2 separate regions of the Homo sapiens genome follow, and region 1 is linked to region 2. The links come from fine-mapping of genetic effects on gene expression. Tissue or cell type: whole blood. Region 2 holds a variant in brackets; the other region holds the start of a gene. All regions are shown on one strand. Distances are from middle to middle.

Evidence for each region. PIP is the estimated chance that this variant, and not a neighbour inherited with it, causes the effect.
Region 1: SMYD2 starts here. The variant in region 2 is fine-mapped to the expression of SMYD2 in whole blood (TOPMed, PIP 0.98).

What each region holds. Positions count from the first base shown.
Region 1 is chr1:214,277,316-214,285,420 of GRCh38, reverse strand. It overlaps SMYD2 (SET and MYND domain containing 2), which reads right to left and starts at 4,262. Exons shown (of 12, transcript NM_020197.3): 1 at 3,994-4,262. The coding sequence starts at 4,166. It overlaps LOC124904509 (a long non-coding RNA gene), which reads left to right and starts at 4,385. Exons shown (of 2, transcript XR_007066876.1): 1 at 4,385-6,707. RefSeq lists silencers at 3,843-4,002, 4,033-4,152, 4,173-4,462 and an enhancer at 4,742-5,307.
Region 2 is chr1:214,372,425-214,380,529 of GRCh38, reverse strand. PTPN14 (protein tyrosine phosphatase non-receptor type 14) reads left to right here. Exons shown (of 19, transcript NM_005401.5): 14 at 2,428-2,571; 15 at 4,093-4,311; 16 at 7,691-7,819. Among named protein-coding and RNA genes, the nearest start is that of SMYD2, 95 kb to the right of the region's middle. RefSeq lists an enhancer at 1-198. The variant A/G (reference allele first, on the strand shown) is at 3,555.

The DNA of each region.
Region 1 (8,105 bases), 95 kb after region 2:
GGAGAGCCAGAGTCATAGCAGTCCTGGGCACAAGGTCCCCTTCTCATGCACAGCTTCAGGCAGCCAGAACCAGGGCTAGTTCAGAGAACTTCAGGAAAACAGCATCAGGATTTCATGGCCCTTAATACTGATTAAGATCAACTAAAAATTATTCTGCCGGTTTGATAAAACAAGAGGAAAGCTAAGATGAATACGCTAGAGAATAAATCTGGGGGACATGAGGAAAAAAAGCCTTTATAACTGCTGAAATAGGACACCTTAATCACAGGGTTTGGCTCAGGCAAACAATTTAATTTTTAAAACAACTAATCTAAGCCAGACATGACCGAAATTCACTGAAACTGGGTTCTAACAGCTCTATTCCAAGGAGGCTAAATGGGCTTTCCTGGTTCCCCCTACACTCAGAACAAACAAAGAAATGTCAATAATCTCATCCTTAAATAACCCATGAGCCAAGAGAACTAAAGATCAAAAGGGAGACTAAAGATCAAAAGATCTGCCTACCTGAAGAATGGCACATAGAATGAATATTTAGATGGAACACTGGGTTAAAGCAGATTTCTCTCCTTCTGAGACAAATCACATTGGGGGTTAAAATATGTCTAGGCCAGGCACGGTGGCTCACGCCTGTAATCCTAGCACTTTGAGAGGCTGAGGTGGGTGGATCACTTGAGGTCAGGAGTTCGAGACCAGCCTGGCCAACATGATGAAACCCTGTCTCTACTAAAAATACAAAAATTAGTCGGAAATCACTTGAACCCGGGAGGCGGAGGTTGCAGTGAGCCAAGATCGTGCCACTGCACTCCAGCCTGGGCAACAGAGTGAGACGAGACTGTTTCAAAAAAAAAAAAAAGTCTAAAACTTAGTTTAAAATACAACATACTTGGCCCGGCGCAGTGGCTCATGCCTGTAATCCCAGCACTTTGGGAGGCCGGGAGTTTGAGACCAGCCTGACCAACATGGAGAAACCCTGTCTCTACTAAAAATACAAAATTAGCCAGGTGTGGTGACGCATTCCTGTAATCCCAGCTACTCGGGAGGCTGAGGCAGAGGAATTGCTTGAACCGGGGAGGTGGAGGTTGTGGTGAGCTGAGATCACGCCACTGCACTCCAGCCTGGGCAACAAGAGCGAAACTCTGTCTCAAAAAAAAAAAAAAAAAAAAAAACCACACCAAAAAATGGTGATAAATGGCCAAAATGTGTATGTGTGCATTTATGTGTGTATGTGTGTATAAAGTGTATCTGAGAAGTCTGATAGGGACAGCTTCCAAGTGGAAAAACTTTATATAATATTATTAGGAGCTGCCTTCTAGCAGTTCAGGCAAGATACGCATGTTCTCCAATGGCACCCACCAGACTGAGAAATGTGATACAAATTAAAAATTCCCCAAAGCAAACCTTTGTCTGAATTGCCCTGACCGTAAGAATCCCATTCTGTTGAGACTTAAGACATTTTCCATTATTTCTCAATTTATAGCATATACTTATTCCTACCTAAAGAAATCACTTTTCTTTTCTTCAAAAAAAGTTAGATCCTGATACAATTAGTATGACATGGAAATTCTTGGGTCATTCATTTATCTTAAGCAGTATTGTTTATGTTAAACTTCTGGCAAAAGAAAGGATAAGGGGTAGCTTTCTTTTGGGTGTGTGGAGCTGGGGCAGGCAGCAGATTTTGACCTGTAAGTATGAACATTTCCAGAATTCTACTCCTATACTTTGAGGCCCTATGGAGGAAAATACACGTTCCCCTCATACATCTGGACAGACTGATTTGTCCTAAGTCATATACAAATTGCTGACAGAGGAACTGATGCTGAATCTATCAGATGACCTAACCACTAATAGTAAATGATTCAGATTTAATAGAAATCATGAAGTAGGGTACAAGGATATTTCTAATTGCATAAGTATCATGGATATTATTTCTTTTGTATTATTTTAATTGACTTCAAATAATTCTTTGGGGAGAGAGAGGAAATAAACTACGGGTATTGACATAAGGTCAGGGAAATCAAACAGAGAAGTGGTTTGCAAGTTGTAATAACACCCCATTGCAAGTTGCAGCCCTGGTGAGGGACCCAAGGCAACAGTGAGTAACACTAATAAATGTCAATCAGAAAAATTTAACAACAAAAGAGGCAGCAAACTGTCACATATGGCAGAATAATCCAGGCTGAATGCTTTGTGAACTTGCATCTGACCATCCATTAATGTTCTAAGGTTGGGGGTATGCGTAGTAGATACAATTAGGAGACTTAAAGCTAAAGAGAAGCATCTCTCAGTTCTTCTCATCCCTTCTAAATCCAGAGGGATTTGATCTTTCATTCACTGGGGGCCAGGGCTGGCAACTACCCATATAAAGTAAGCACCTACTATGTGCCTGGCATCCATGGTCTTAGGCGATGGCTTCCAGGAATTGCCAGGATCCCTGATGGAGGCTCCTTCTGTGCTGCCTGACCTGCTTTGCTCCTGCCACTGCAGACACCCACGCTGCTGCAGACTCCGAGCCACAGCAAGGCTCAGAAGATCAAGGGACCAGTCACAGCAGCCTTTTTAACTTTGGGAAAACCCAATGCTCACTTCACTCAAACGTTGCAAAGTGGTGCCATGACCCTTTAGCTCTTGGCTCACCAATTCAAAGAGCCACATCACATACAGCCCTTAAGCTGCCCACGGCATGATTCCGTGTCTAGTTCCTTTCCAGGTCCCCCCAAGCGGAAGACAGTTCTGGCAGGGAGTCTGGGCAAGATTACTACAATATTTAGCCTTTGTCCCTTCTTTTGCTACGTCTTATTGTAGAATGAGGCACACAGGTCTGAGAGATTGAGTATGCTGGACTTGAGACCTGTACTCAAAAGGTCCCTGCAGGACCGCAGGTCAGCTTAATCCAGCCCAGGAATCTCCATTTCAAAGATGAAGAAACTGAGGTTCAAAGAAAGCAAATCATGGTCTCTACTCAGAGTACTGGAAGGCCTGATATAAACTTAACCCCAATGCCATGCCTCCTGCCTTAGTAAATTTACTGAGCACCTAACCAGTGAGAAATAGGCAGAAGTGAATAAGGCCAGATTTCACTCCCTTCACTACTGGTGTGAATGGATAAAGGTAACTCCACTTTCTCTCTGGGCTTTAGTTTTCTCATCCATTAAGTGAAAGACAAGACTGAATTGGTGATTTCTAATGTGCCTTTAAGCTCTGAAACTCTCATAAGAGTTGAGGATATAATTATGTGTTGGTGTGTGCAAATGTATATGCATCATATATACAAACACAGACACATATATACATATGGTATCTTACAATTAAATACCATTAGCAACCACACATCTTGCCCAATCCCTTCCTGCGACCATGTTTTCCTAATCCCAAACCGAAACTGGACACTGCAACTCATCGTCGCAGCACCTCAGAATCCAGGGGGTGTGGTCAGTGCCCACTGGCGTCCCTCCAAACACCCATGTAAGCGTACTTTAACATGTAAGCGTACTTTACAAGACATATACTAAGTCATTAAATTCCTTGGAAGAAACGGCCAATCTGAGGCAGGGCTGGACTGTGGGTAACAGAACACACCGCAGGAAGCATAAGTTAAAGGTGACAGCCCGTGGCTGCCCAAATTTGGGGCTCCGCTGCCAATGCACCGGGAGGGCAGTGAGTGCCCAGGCTTGGAACAAGCCTGGCTCGGAGCCCACATTTGAGGGCAGGAACCTGCACGCCCGGGTTTGCGCATCCAGCGTGAGCAACTCTGAAAACGTGCAGTGCAGGGCGTGCAGCGGGGCACCGGTCCTGTTTCCTCTCGCACGTGGCGCCTGGCGTGGGGCTGCAGCGCGGGGCCGCAGCGCGGGGCCTCCTCCCCTCCCCGCCCCCCACCCCGCCCCAAGGGCCGGCGCTAGGACCCCGCGAGCCGCACGCACTTCCTGGCGCCGCCGTCCAAGCCTCCCGCTCGGCGCCCCCGGCTCCCGCCCGCCGCCGCCGCCGCCGCCGCCCTACCTGGTGAAGCAGTACTCGCAGTGGTTGCCCCGCTCGTTGACCGTGAGCACGTAGGCATAGGCCGGGCAGGAGAACAGCAAGTCCCCCACCTGGAAGGGCTGCAGAGCCCGCAGCCCCCGGCCTTTGCCCGGGCTGCAGAAGCGCTCCAGGCCGCCGAGGCCCTCGGCCCTCATGGTGGCGGCGGGGCGCGGCCGCCGGCTGTGCCCGAGCTGCGGCTCCCGGCGAGCTGTTATTGGAGACGCGTCACCTAGAGCTGCGGGGGGCGGGGTGGGAGCCGCCCGGCGGACGCGGCGGCGGCTCCCCGCTCCCCGGAAGGGAGGGCGGCCCCGCCCGGGCCTCGCGCGCCCCCGCGGGGAGGGGGACGGGCCCGGCGGCCCCGCCTAGCGCCGCGACCCTCGGCGGCCGCCCCGCGCGCGCTCCGGGCCGTTTCCGGTGTGGCCGCGACAAAGAGCCGCAGCCCCTGTGGCTTCTGCGAGGAGGCGTGAGGCGTGTGCGCCTCCGCGGCGTCTCCACGGAGCGAGCGGGACGCGCCCTCCTCCTCGGTGGGAGGGAGGGGGGTCACCTGCGGGGACCAGGTATCCGAGGGCCACCCCTAGACAGTCAGCCTGGCCCGAAGGATGACCAGCCCCCGGTAAATAGAAGGGGGCGAAGCCAGCTCCGAAACCTTACGTTCGCTGTCCCTTGTAAAGACCCTAGAGGCAGTGATCGGGGAACGCCAAGGAGAAAGCGGCAGAGGGGAAACCACAGTAGAGAAGTTTGGTGTGCAGAGGGTTGAAGTGTGCTTTTCCAAGGTTAGAGGTTTTTAAACCTTGTGGCTTTAATGGGAACGTAGTTTGCCCTCTGCTCCTCTAGTGGAATTACATGGACGGAAGAGGAAATGCATTGGCCGGCCCAGCTCACCGAGTCTCTGAGGCATGCTGCGAACGTTGCAGAGGAAGCCAGAGAGAACCTTGCCTTCAAGGAATTTAGGCTGTTGGGGGATAATGCGATGCTGTGGCCAGTGTCCAGGACACTGCGCTAGAGTTTGCAGTAGTTTTAATATGCTTGACCACCCACGAACTGTGATCTTAGAAAAGTCACTTGGGTTAGGAGTCAAAGGATTTAAAGCCCACAAAGCCTGAAACGTAAATCCTATACACATGCACGCTATTACTTTTCATATGAGAAAGGAAAATATAATCCGTGTTCCACATGATTATGTAAAGACTGGAATTGATGTACATGCAGTAAAGACTAAAATTGTGACGAGATCATTTAGCAGAAACCACTACTTCAAAATAGGACCTCAAACAGTTACCTGTGTAAGTTCAGGACTGGTTGAGCAAAGGGAAAGGATTAATATGATTGGAGATGTAAAATCAGTGGAATTTTTGGCATTTCAGTAAAATGTCTTTATCAGCTGGGTGTGGTGGCTCAGCCCTGTAATCCCAACACTGTGGGAGGCCAAGGTGGGAGGATCATTTGAGCCCAGGAATTGGAGAGTTGGAGACCAGCTTGGGCAACATAAAGACCCCGTCTCTATGGGAAATTAACCACCTCTCAAGTGGTGCTGAGGTGGGAGGATAGCTTGAGCCTGGGAAGTCAAGGTTGCAGTGAGCTGTGGTGACTCCATTATACTCCAGCCTGGGTGACAGAGCAGGACCTTGTCTCAAAAGAAAACAAAAAAGCCCTTATTAGTGGCAAACTAAATAAGCCTCTAACCCGTCTTCAAGTAAAGGAAGTTATGATAGTATTTTCATTTATGCATTTTAAGAAACTTCGACTGACTATGGCCAGCAACTGGGATAGAAAGATGGACATCAGCCGGCTGTGGTGGCTCACGCCTGTAATCCCAGCACTTTGGGAGGCCGAGGTAGGCGGATCACCTGAGGTCGAGAGTTCAAGACCAGCCTGACCAACATGGAGAAACCTCATCTCTACTAAAAATACAAAATTAGCCAGGTGTGGTGGTGCATGCCTGTAATCCCAGCTACTCGGGAGGCTGAGGCAGGAGAATCGCTTGAACCTGGGAGGTGGAGGTTGCTGTGAGCCAAAATCGCACCATTGCACTCCAGCCTGCGCAAGAAGAGCGAAACTCTGTCTCAAAAAAAAAAAAAAAAAAAAAGTGGACAAAATGTAGTCCTAGGTCCTTGCATTTGGCACATTCAAGTTTGATAATACCATTAGTTATTGAGTATTGTTGACCAGGCATCGTGCTCCATCATTAAACACATTATCTGGTTTATCTTTACAACAGGCTAATGAGTTAGGTATTATGCCCCTCATTGCCAAAATTAGGAAGGAAACTAAGACCCAGAAGGAATGATTTTCAAGGCCACACAATAAATTGCAGAATTTGGTTTCCAAGTCAGTCTGAATTCAAGGTCCATGTTCCTAACCACAGTGTTTTGCTGCAAACAAACACAGTTCACTGGGATAAGTGCAGTTATGGTGGCTTGTACAAAATGTTCTGTGGTAGTACAGGCAGGGAGTGACAGCTTTAGCCTGCTAAACAGTCAAGACAGGCATCACATTCAAGTAACGTTAGAGCTGAGCCTGAAGGATGGACAGGATTTTGCAAGTGGAGGTGGGGAGAAGAGTTTTCTGGGCAGAGAGAACTGCGTACAAAGACAGAAGACCCTGAAAGCACAGAGCTTGTAGTTGGGGGCCCCTGAGCATCTGGAAGAGAGGACAGGAAATGAGGCAGGAACAGCTGAAGAGCATCTTCTCCAGAGGTGAGTTCTGCCCCAGAGGCCATGGGAGAGCCAGTTAAAGCGTTTAAGTGAGGGGTGGCACATTGAGTCCAGTGTTTTAGACTGATCTGCCAGCAGCATTGTGGGTTGGCTGGGGTGCCAACATTCAGCACTTCATAACTGTTTACATGTATATAAACAGCCTTGGCATGTGAGACCACTGACAGTTTGCATTTGTCTGTGTGATGACCTGATTAGTGTTTACATCCTCCACCAGACTGTACAAGCTCCATGAGGGCAGGGAATGAGTCTGTTTTTGTTACCCTTACATCACCAGCTCTTATCACTACTCCTGGAACACAGAGAGAATGGAAAAAATATTTAAAGGTTGAATAAACGTCATGGAATCTCATTCTGATTTCTGGGGGCTCTAACCAGCAAAAAGATGAAAAGACTGACGTAGAAGTAAACAATTACAATACAGTAGACAGTTTACTGTTTCAATGATTAATTGTGCAAAGTAATCTACCTGTTTACTTTTTTTATTGCAAGTAACTTTTTCCACTTTAATTGGGAAAGATTTCCACAGCTGAGAAAAAAGCAATTACATAGCTACCGAATTATCTTTCCAGATGAGTGCTGGCTTATTCTTGAGGGTGGAGGTGACTGTGATTTGAGAACACTGGAAAAGAAACCGCCTCATTTCAGAAAAATCCCTGTGATGAACTTAAATGACTCGAGATGGGGAAATGGTCACTGAAGCAGTAGCCATGAATTTAGGAGCTTAAATTACTAAGAAAACTGTGTTTAAAATAAACAGCCAAAGAATGGCAATAAACCAGCCCGGGGAGACTGATGACAGCGCTCTTCATGAAGCCCATACTTGTCACTCTGCCACTCTGTAATCTCACATTCCGTGAAGTCTTTGAGCAGCCAGGACCCATCCACTTTTCCTACGCCCTCTGCTCCATAACGTAGGAGGTATGGAATTTGAAAGGAGTGTTTTTGGTTACTTTGCCTCACTGAAACTCAGGAGAAGTGGTACAAGGACGAAAACTCCTTTGCTTAATTTCTCTAACCTAGAAGTTGATCTAATTTATGAGTAAAAGATCCTTCCAACCACAGATTAGCACATGAAAGAAATAGCTCTGGCCTAGGGAAATGAAGCCTTAGCAAAGAAGGTATCCCAGTGAACGTGAGCAAAGGGCCTAGATGCTGTATAGTTCTGCATCTATGTCTACATGTCACTTATTGAGGACATACTATGTACTTACACTGTGATAGATCCTAGTCATACCAAGGTGTAAAGACCAACATACATGAAAACAGTTATGAAGTGCTGAATGTTGGCACTCATAGATATTAGGTTCCAATCCCTGGAATCTATAAATGGCTTCAAAGGGTCTTGCAAATGTGTTTTAAGGATCTTGAGAGAGTGAG
Region 2 (8,105 bases):
TACTGCTTCCTTGAAGATACTTCCCTGCTTGTAGTCCCCTAGCCAGAAGTTGATGCACTGAGAAGAAAAGGCCCTCTGATCACAGATCAGAGCTTGTGAATTATTATTATTTTTTTTATCTCTGGTAACAAGCTGATAGGGTGAGTGAGAAGGATCAAAGAGACATACTTTGATTTATCACTGAGTAATAATCCTTTCCCGAGAAAGACAAGTTAATTACTTTTTGTCTTAGACCCAGTTAGGGTCACCTTACAGTGCAGGTGGAAAGAAAGCAGGACTGCTGAGAGGAGCTCAGGACCCATTTTTCAGGACTATTGCCTTCTCAAAACTTTGGAGAGCAGTGAAAATAGATTCCCAAGTGAAAGAGGTGGCAGAAATAAAAAAAAAGAAAGAAAAACTCTTTCTCCCCAAAACTAGCAGCAAGCAAACAAAGACCTAAAAATTTTAATCCAGAATCTTCCCCCAGGGGGTTCCCGAGAATTGAGAGACCAGGGTCATTTGTAAGAATATTATATCTTTTGGTGGTAAGTCCTTGGGTACTGTAAACCCAGAAAATCTGAGACAGGTCTCAGTTAATGTAGAAAGTTTATTCTGCCAAGGTTGAGGGTACACACCTGTCACACAGCCTCAGGAGGTCCTGATGACATGTGCCCAAGGTGGTCGGGGCATGGCTTGGTTTTATACATTTTAGGGAGACATGAGACATCAGTCAATATTGTTTCTGTCTGGAAAGGCAGGACAACTTGAAGCAAAGGCAGGAAGACTTGAAGTAGGGAGGGGGCTTCCACGTCACAGGTAGGTGAGAGGCAAATGGTTGCATTCTTTTGTTTCTGATTAGCCTCTCCAAAGGAGGCAATCAGATATGCATTTATCTCAGTGAGCAGAGGGGTGACTTTGAATAGAATGGGAGGCAGGTTTGCCCAAGCAGTGCCCAGCTTGACTTTTCCTTTTAGCTTAGTGATTTGGGGCCCAAGATATTTTCCTTTCACAGTGCTTTTCTCACTTTCTCCCAGTAACCTCCTCTGAGATACTCCTTTGGTTTGTCTGATGAGTCGGCTGCCACCAGGATAGGCATCCTGTTGTCAGTGTCACTCACACAGGCTTCATTCTGATTGTAGGTGACATTGTGGAGACACATGGAAGGGCGTCATGCAGTCCTCCCACCCGCAATTAGAATAATTCATAACCCTGTGGGATGGCTCCGTCAAGACCTCTTCCTGGGGAGTGAATTTATACATCATAGAATAAGGAAAAAAGTCTCTCAAGGCTTGAAAAGAAACCAAGGATTCAATGGCTCTTCATCTGTGTCAGTCAAATGAATCTGCAAATTGGTTGCCCTTCATTGTGAATCAAAATCCTAAACCCTGCAAAACTCATCTGCTTCTATGAGGAATGCCTGTGTTCTTCCCTTAACTTCAAAGACACACTTAATTTTAGGAAAGGCCCTTCGTGGCTTGCTTGAAGTGAGCATAAAGAGAGCTTTTTCATACTCGGTTAGTTTCAAGGACCTGAGGAAGCACAGCAGGAGGCTAAAAACCAGCCCTGCCCAATCCAATTTCAATTTAGAGGTGAGGGCAGAGAGGATGGAAATCAAAAAGCCACAAACCAGGACCAGGTGTAAACATCAAAACCTTTCCCTAAGTGGTCTGCTCAGTTCCGGAGTCCATGTTCCCCCATAGCTCAGTGGCATGCAGTGATGTCCCACCATTTGTGTTGGGAGGCACCGTCTCTGTTACTGTGGGCCCTCTGGGTGAAGCCTGGAGGGTGATGCCTGCGGATCATCTTAGGTGACCCCAGCCAGGCTTTGCTGTTAGTGAGTTTGCTAAACCACATCAGCTCTCAATTCTGGGGATGACACACCCTTAGGTATTCCAAGGATCAGAGATTAATTATAGAATTAACGTCCTCAGCATTAGCCCCTCAGGACGGAAACTTAGGAAGATTTTCCTCTACAGTTTATGTGTGTGGATCTCTCAATCAACAACAAACTGTTTTACAAGTTTTGCTCCGTTCCGTCTGTGCAGAAGGTCCGTCACTGTGATTGGATTAGATGGTTCATATAACCCTGTTTCTCTTTTCCTTGTCCTGTCATCTTTACCTTTCTAAAGTGTATCGCATGTACCCTATTTTGTTTTTGTTTTGTTTTGTTTTGCCCTATGGCAGGGTGTATTTGTAGGGAGTCTTTTTTCTTATTTATTGGTCTATCTAGCTAAGGAGTTAATTAAGAATAAAAGCTCAGGAGTCCTGTAGGAACTGGCTTCCAGGGGCCCAGTGGGAATAGTGGGAAGGCTGTGTTTGAATTTGCCCTACTGATGGTGATTGTCTGCATTCCTTGGCTGGGGAGTTACAGATTTGAGGAGATTAAAACACATTCCAACATTCTACTAGTATTATAAACAATGAGCACATGCCTTTTCTTGCCGCAAGAATCTAGAGAAGCAGAAGATGGCAGGCCTGGAGGCACAGAAGAGGCCGCTGATGTTGGCAGCATTGAATGGGCTCTCGGTGGCTCGAGTCTCAGGGCGGGAAGAGAATCGAGTTGATGCCACCCGGGTTCCCATGGACGAGAGGGTAAGTGGCAGGCTTGTCAATGTGACTCATTCTCTGTAGTCTTAGGATCCCAAAACACCCTCCTTGCCCGAATATGCCAGCATTGAGATTTGTGTGATGCATTCTTTCTTCAATCTGAGATTAGGAAGATCAGGTATAACTGTGTTGCATTAAATCAGTCCCTTTCAGCATCTCATGTTTCTCCATTCCGGTCTTCCTGCTTTGTCCGGTTGGCAGATCATTGGTTGACTAAAACCATCAGCCCCTAACATGCTGTATGACTTGGTCAAGTCACTCAATTTCTTTGGGCCCACTTCCTGTTTTGTAAAATGCACAAGTTAAACACTTGCAGTAGCTCTGAATTTCTGTGATTTTTGTGAGCAATTGCCACTTCTTAGGAAGTGATTATTTTATCCAAGCATTTATTTTTATTTTTAATTTTTTTAAACTTTTATTTTAGTTTTGGGGGCACATGTGAAGGTTTATTACATAGGTAAACACATGTCACAGGGGTTTGTTGTACGTATTATTTCATCACCCAGGTATTAAGCCCAGTACCCCATGGTTATCCTCTCTGCTCCTCTCCCTCCTTCCACCCTCCACCCTCAGGTAGGCCCCAGTGTCTGTTGTTTCCTTCTTTGTGTTCATAAATTCTTATCATTTAGCTCCCACTTATAAGTGACAACATGCAGTATTTGGTTTTCTGTTTCTGCTTTAGTTTGCTAAGGATAATAGCCTCCAGCTCCATCCATGTCTCCCGCAAAAGACATGACCTTGTATCCAAGCATTTATAGAGTTCTTTAAAAATGCTGTCCCCTCGTATGACCATAAAATGAGGCTGATTTATAATTGTCTGGATAATGCATTGTGACAACATGGGTTTTGAAAAGCAGAAAGCAGCTGCATGGTAGTGTTTCAGAAGCGAAGAAAGGTGGATCCTTAGTTCCCGAAATTGCTGTCAGAAGGTTAAGAAACAGGTTGTATAAATGTAATAAAGTACTAAT[A/G]ACACCAGGGTGTTCGATTTCTGCCAGTATGTATCCAGAATTAGAATGTTTTTAAAGCCAGAAGGGACTTCAGAGAAATCATTTAACCCAATTAATACCATGTTATTGGAATTAGTAGTTTGGCCAGGAAGGAGGAAAAAAGAGAGTGATTTAATCCTCAGAGCTATAGAACTGTGGACCAGTATCATCTTAAAAACAGCTATATAGGTGGAGGAAAGGATGTTTGGATAATTAAGATTAACAGTCTCTTTATCATTAGGACTTTAAACAGAGTTGTTAATAGCAAAAATATTGATTTTTGAATTTCAACTCTTGCTAGTTCTTGCAGATTTGTTCTACTTATAATATGAGTAAGAAGGAAAATGGTTATTAGACAAGGGAAAATATCAATATGGTTGATAATGAGACAAACCAAGCATTGATTGTAGAACTTGAAATCTCTTTTAACACAATCGCTAAATATTTAAAGAAATTTGGTTGTTTCATTGAGTTTTTGGATCAGATAATTTAGAGAGCTGAAGATCAATTTCTGTTGCAGTTCAGAACCCTGAAGAAGAAACTAGAAGAGGGAATGGTGTTCACAGAATATGAGCAAATTCCAAAGAAAAAGGCGAATGGCATTTTCAGCACAGCAGCTCTGCCAGAAAACGCCGAGCGCAGCCGAATCCGTGAAGTTGTCCCCTATGAGGAGAATCGAGTAGAGCTGATACCAACCAAAGAAAATAACACAGGATACATTAATGCCTCCCACATCAAGGTAAGAAGGCAAGCCTGTTAGAAGGTTTGGTAAAGATGGCTGGGTTAAAGGGAAAAATGCGGGGAGAAGAAAATGTGTGGGCTGCAGTTGTACCTTTTGGCTTGTCCCCAGACCCTCAGGGATTGTTTTTGAACTCCTGTGCTTTTCTTAGTCAAGTGGAAGGGCATGTCTATCACTGCAGAGAGAAGGAAGTCTAGCAGCCTCAGGAAGAACTTCAGGTCAGCGATTTCTGAAGCTCGCTCATTACAGAGGCTTTAACTTTTCCTTCTCTCTGTGGGCTGTAACTCTCTCTATACTCAGATTATCCTTTTCAGTTTGTAATTAGCAGGTGCTGGAGACTTTGGAAGTTACAGGTATTGCGTTACTGACATAAAAGTGTCATGTTCAATAACAATAGAAACTATTGTTTTTCCCTTATAATACTGCAGGTTATGCATTTTATAAAAGCGCGAGTCCTATTATTGCATGGTATTTAGAAGAGTGGAGTAATTTTCACCTACACTATAAAAGTGTGGTTAATATTGAATCTTGAAAGATTTGCCACATTAGTCAATGAATTTGTGTTACTAAATTTTTGTTGTTATTTCAAATACTTCAAACCTTTATATGTCAGTATTACATAGTTTAGCACTTCTGCAGTTAAAACTTTGACTTATGGATACATGTGTACCTGTAGTTAAATGTTTCTTAAATAGCTTACCTTCCTCAGAGTCCCTGTTAACAGAGGGACACTTATTTAGAATGTCACCATTTGCTCTGAACTCTGAAGTGGGAGATTTGTTCATCTATTAATGTTAAAGCCAGTGTTATAGGTGTTGTTAAATAACACAAGGTTCAATTGATAGTCCACTGTGATCAATAGCCTTAGAAACCTGTTTTCGGCCTTGTCTAGAATTACTTACTTTCCTCATTGGACTTTTCAACTGTAGCAGAATTATTAACAGGTTTTTTTAAGCCTGTAAAAGGCGAGTTAGATATCTAGCTTGTGTATCAATTATAACTAGTTTTGATACAGAATGGGAAAAGTATAGTATGGTTGGGTATATACTATTTTTATTAATATACACAGATAACCATAGTTTTTAATAATTAGAAAGTACTGTCAAAAGAAATATAAAAGAGTAACTATCATAGATCATATTACTAATTTTAACTTGGATTTTTGAGAGTGAGAAGTAAAAAGTGAACTCTAGGAAACTCTTAAATAAACTGTCAGTGGTGGGTTTCATGGGCTTAGTTTACATTATGAAACAATGACCAAAGTAATGTATTCCAACAAAGATGCAGATCACACAGCTGCTTCCTGATAGAGTGTCTATGAAAATCTTACATAGAAATATTATATTATCTTCTTCTTTTGGCCAGATCTCTTCCACTATTTTCCATCTGCTCTCTGAAAAAAGCTGTCACTTTGTATAAACTGTGCCCATCGGGCATTGTTAACCGAGGAGCATTCCCTTCCTTGGTATTCTCTGTGGCCCACATTTCATCCTGTGGATCCGGGTTAGACATGGGTGCATTTCATAGACCCGTGGACCTTGCAAGAACTTGTCCCTGTGTTTTGGAATAGAGGAGTATATTTTGCCAGTGTTTTCCCCCCTGGGTTCCAAGCAGCCGTTAACACAGAACAGAGATTTATTTGCTCCAGAGGTGGAATCACATGTGTGAAATCTACCTCAGCAGCACTGCTTGTTGTGTTTTTAATGCAGTTTTTAATACCCTTCTGTCAATACTTGGAATATACTGAAAGGCCCCAGGCAGCAGCAGCATTCTCTGGAAGTATTTATGTTTCCTATACGTTGGGTGCCAGAGAGGCTAATGTTTAAAATCACAATTCCACGGATAAACCAAACTCCTAGCCAGCAAATATATGAATGTTATCTCCCACCAGTATTTGGAAAATGGATTTTTCTTGCCAGCTTTGACCTAAACATGCCTTGTGTAATGAGACAATAACTTACATTGTTTTTGTTTGAACCAAGTTAGCATACAGTTTTATCAAATAAATGAGGGGAAAAAGTTTCAAACAATGATTACTTCATTACTTTTTGAACTCTCCAGAGATCTGCATTGTATAGATGTAGAAGGGACCTGACTTTGCAATATCAAGGCACAGACCTGGAAGGGAGAACAGAAAGAATTCCTCCAAAGGCCACCATTTCACCTTGACAGCATGACCTTTAACACTTTGGGTACAACTTCTTATTTATGGTTCTCAGCAGCTAGTATTTATAGCTGTAGAATTATCTTCCCCTGATCACCCTGAGCTGCAGGGGTAATAATTTTATTATCCAAAGTCATGTCATGACTGTAGTTCAGTTGGATGCTGTGGTACTACCAAGGTGAAGCTATTGATAAAATATATGCTGTTGACAAGAGCATTCGTAGCATCTCTGCCGTGCATGGCACCACAGAGCAGCAGTGACAGCAGAGGTTTATGATACACTTCATCTCAGATCCACAGGAGAAAGATAGTGCTCCAAAAGGGATGTTGTTTCATGATCTTTTTTTTTTTTTTTATTGTTTAATTGGATGCCATGAAGCACTGCTTTTCAAACTGGATTACAACACAGTGGTAGAATGTGAAATCAGTTTAGTGGTCATGACCAGGTGTGTGTGTGTGTGTGTGTGTGTGTGTGTGTGTGTGTGTGTGTGTGTGTTTCAATGAAATCGACTAGAAAAGAGAAAAGAATGGAAAGTGTTAGAGTACATTGCACATAGTAAGCAGTAACTATTATTTCTGTAACAAGTAAATCCTAAGTTATACATGTTCATATATATGCATCTATACATGTGTGTATGTGTATGGTTTTTAATAGGCACTAGTTTGCATATACTGTGAGTTGCAAACAAAGATCAGGTAAAGGCCAAGCCTGGTGGCTCAGGCCTGTAATCCCAGCACTTTGGGAGGCTGAGATGGGCGTATCACCTGAAGTCAGGAGTTCAAGACCAGCCTGGCCAATGTGGTGAAACGCCATCTCTACAAAAATACAAAAATTAGCCGGGCATGATGGCGAGTGCCTGTAATCCCAGCTCCTTGGGATTCTGAGACGGGAGAATTGCTTGAACCCAGGAGGCGGAGGTTGCAGTGAGCCAAGATCGTGCCACTGTACTCCCGCCTAAGCAGCAGAGCAAGACTCAGTCTCAAAAACCAGGATTAGATAAATATTTAATAGGCTTGAGTGGCAAAAAGTATTTTCATGTGAGAATGTGTCACTACACTAGCCTCTGTAGTCTCAGGGTTTTTGTTCATTGAACTAATTCATTCGGCCCCAAAAATATATCCAAGGTTTTAAGGTGGATACAGATGGACAGGTGATCAGCAGGTAATGTTGTCCGGACTTGGGGTTTATTTACCGATACTTTTCTTGGTTTTTAGGTGGTGGTTGGCGGGGCAGAATGGCACTACATAGCCACCCAGGGGCCCCTGCCACACACGTGCCACGACTTCTGGCAGATGGTGTGGGAGCAGGGAGTGAATGTGATTGCCATGGTCACTGCAGAGGAGGTAAGGGGAATGGCCTACTCCACATCCTTTTTCCCCAGGGGAAAGGGTGGCCAGAAGATGGGCTTTGTGCTGTCAACTTTGCTACCCTATCCTTCTTCCTGCAGTGCTGTTTCTCTGCACATGCTTTTCTCTTTGGTATACATCTGTTTTCTTACTTCCAGATAGATATTTTTTCCCCTGGAGATAATTGATTGTTGTAGCTTTTCCTCCTCCCATTTTCATCTGGCTTTTAACTCTTTTCCTTGGATTGTAATGCACTAAACTGAAAATAAAACAACAGAAAACC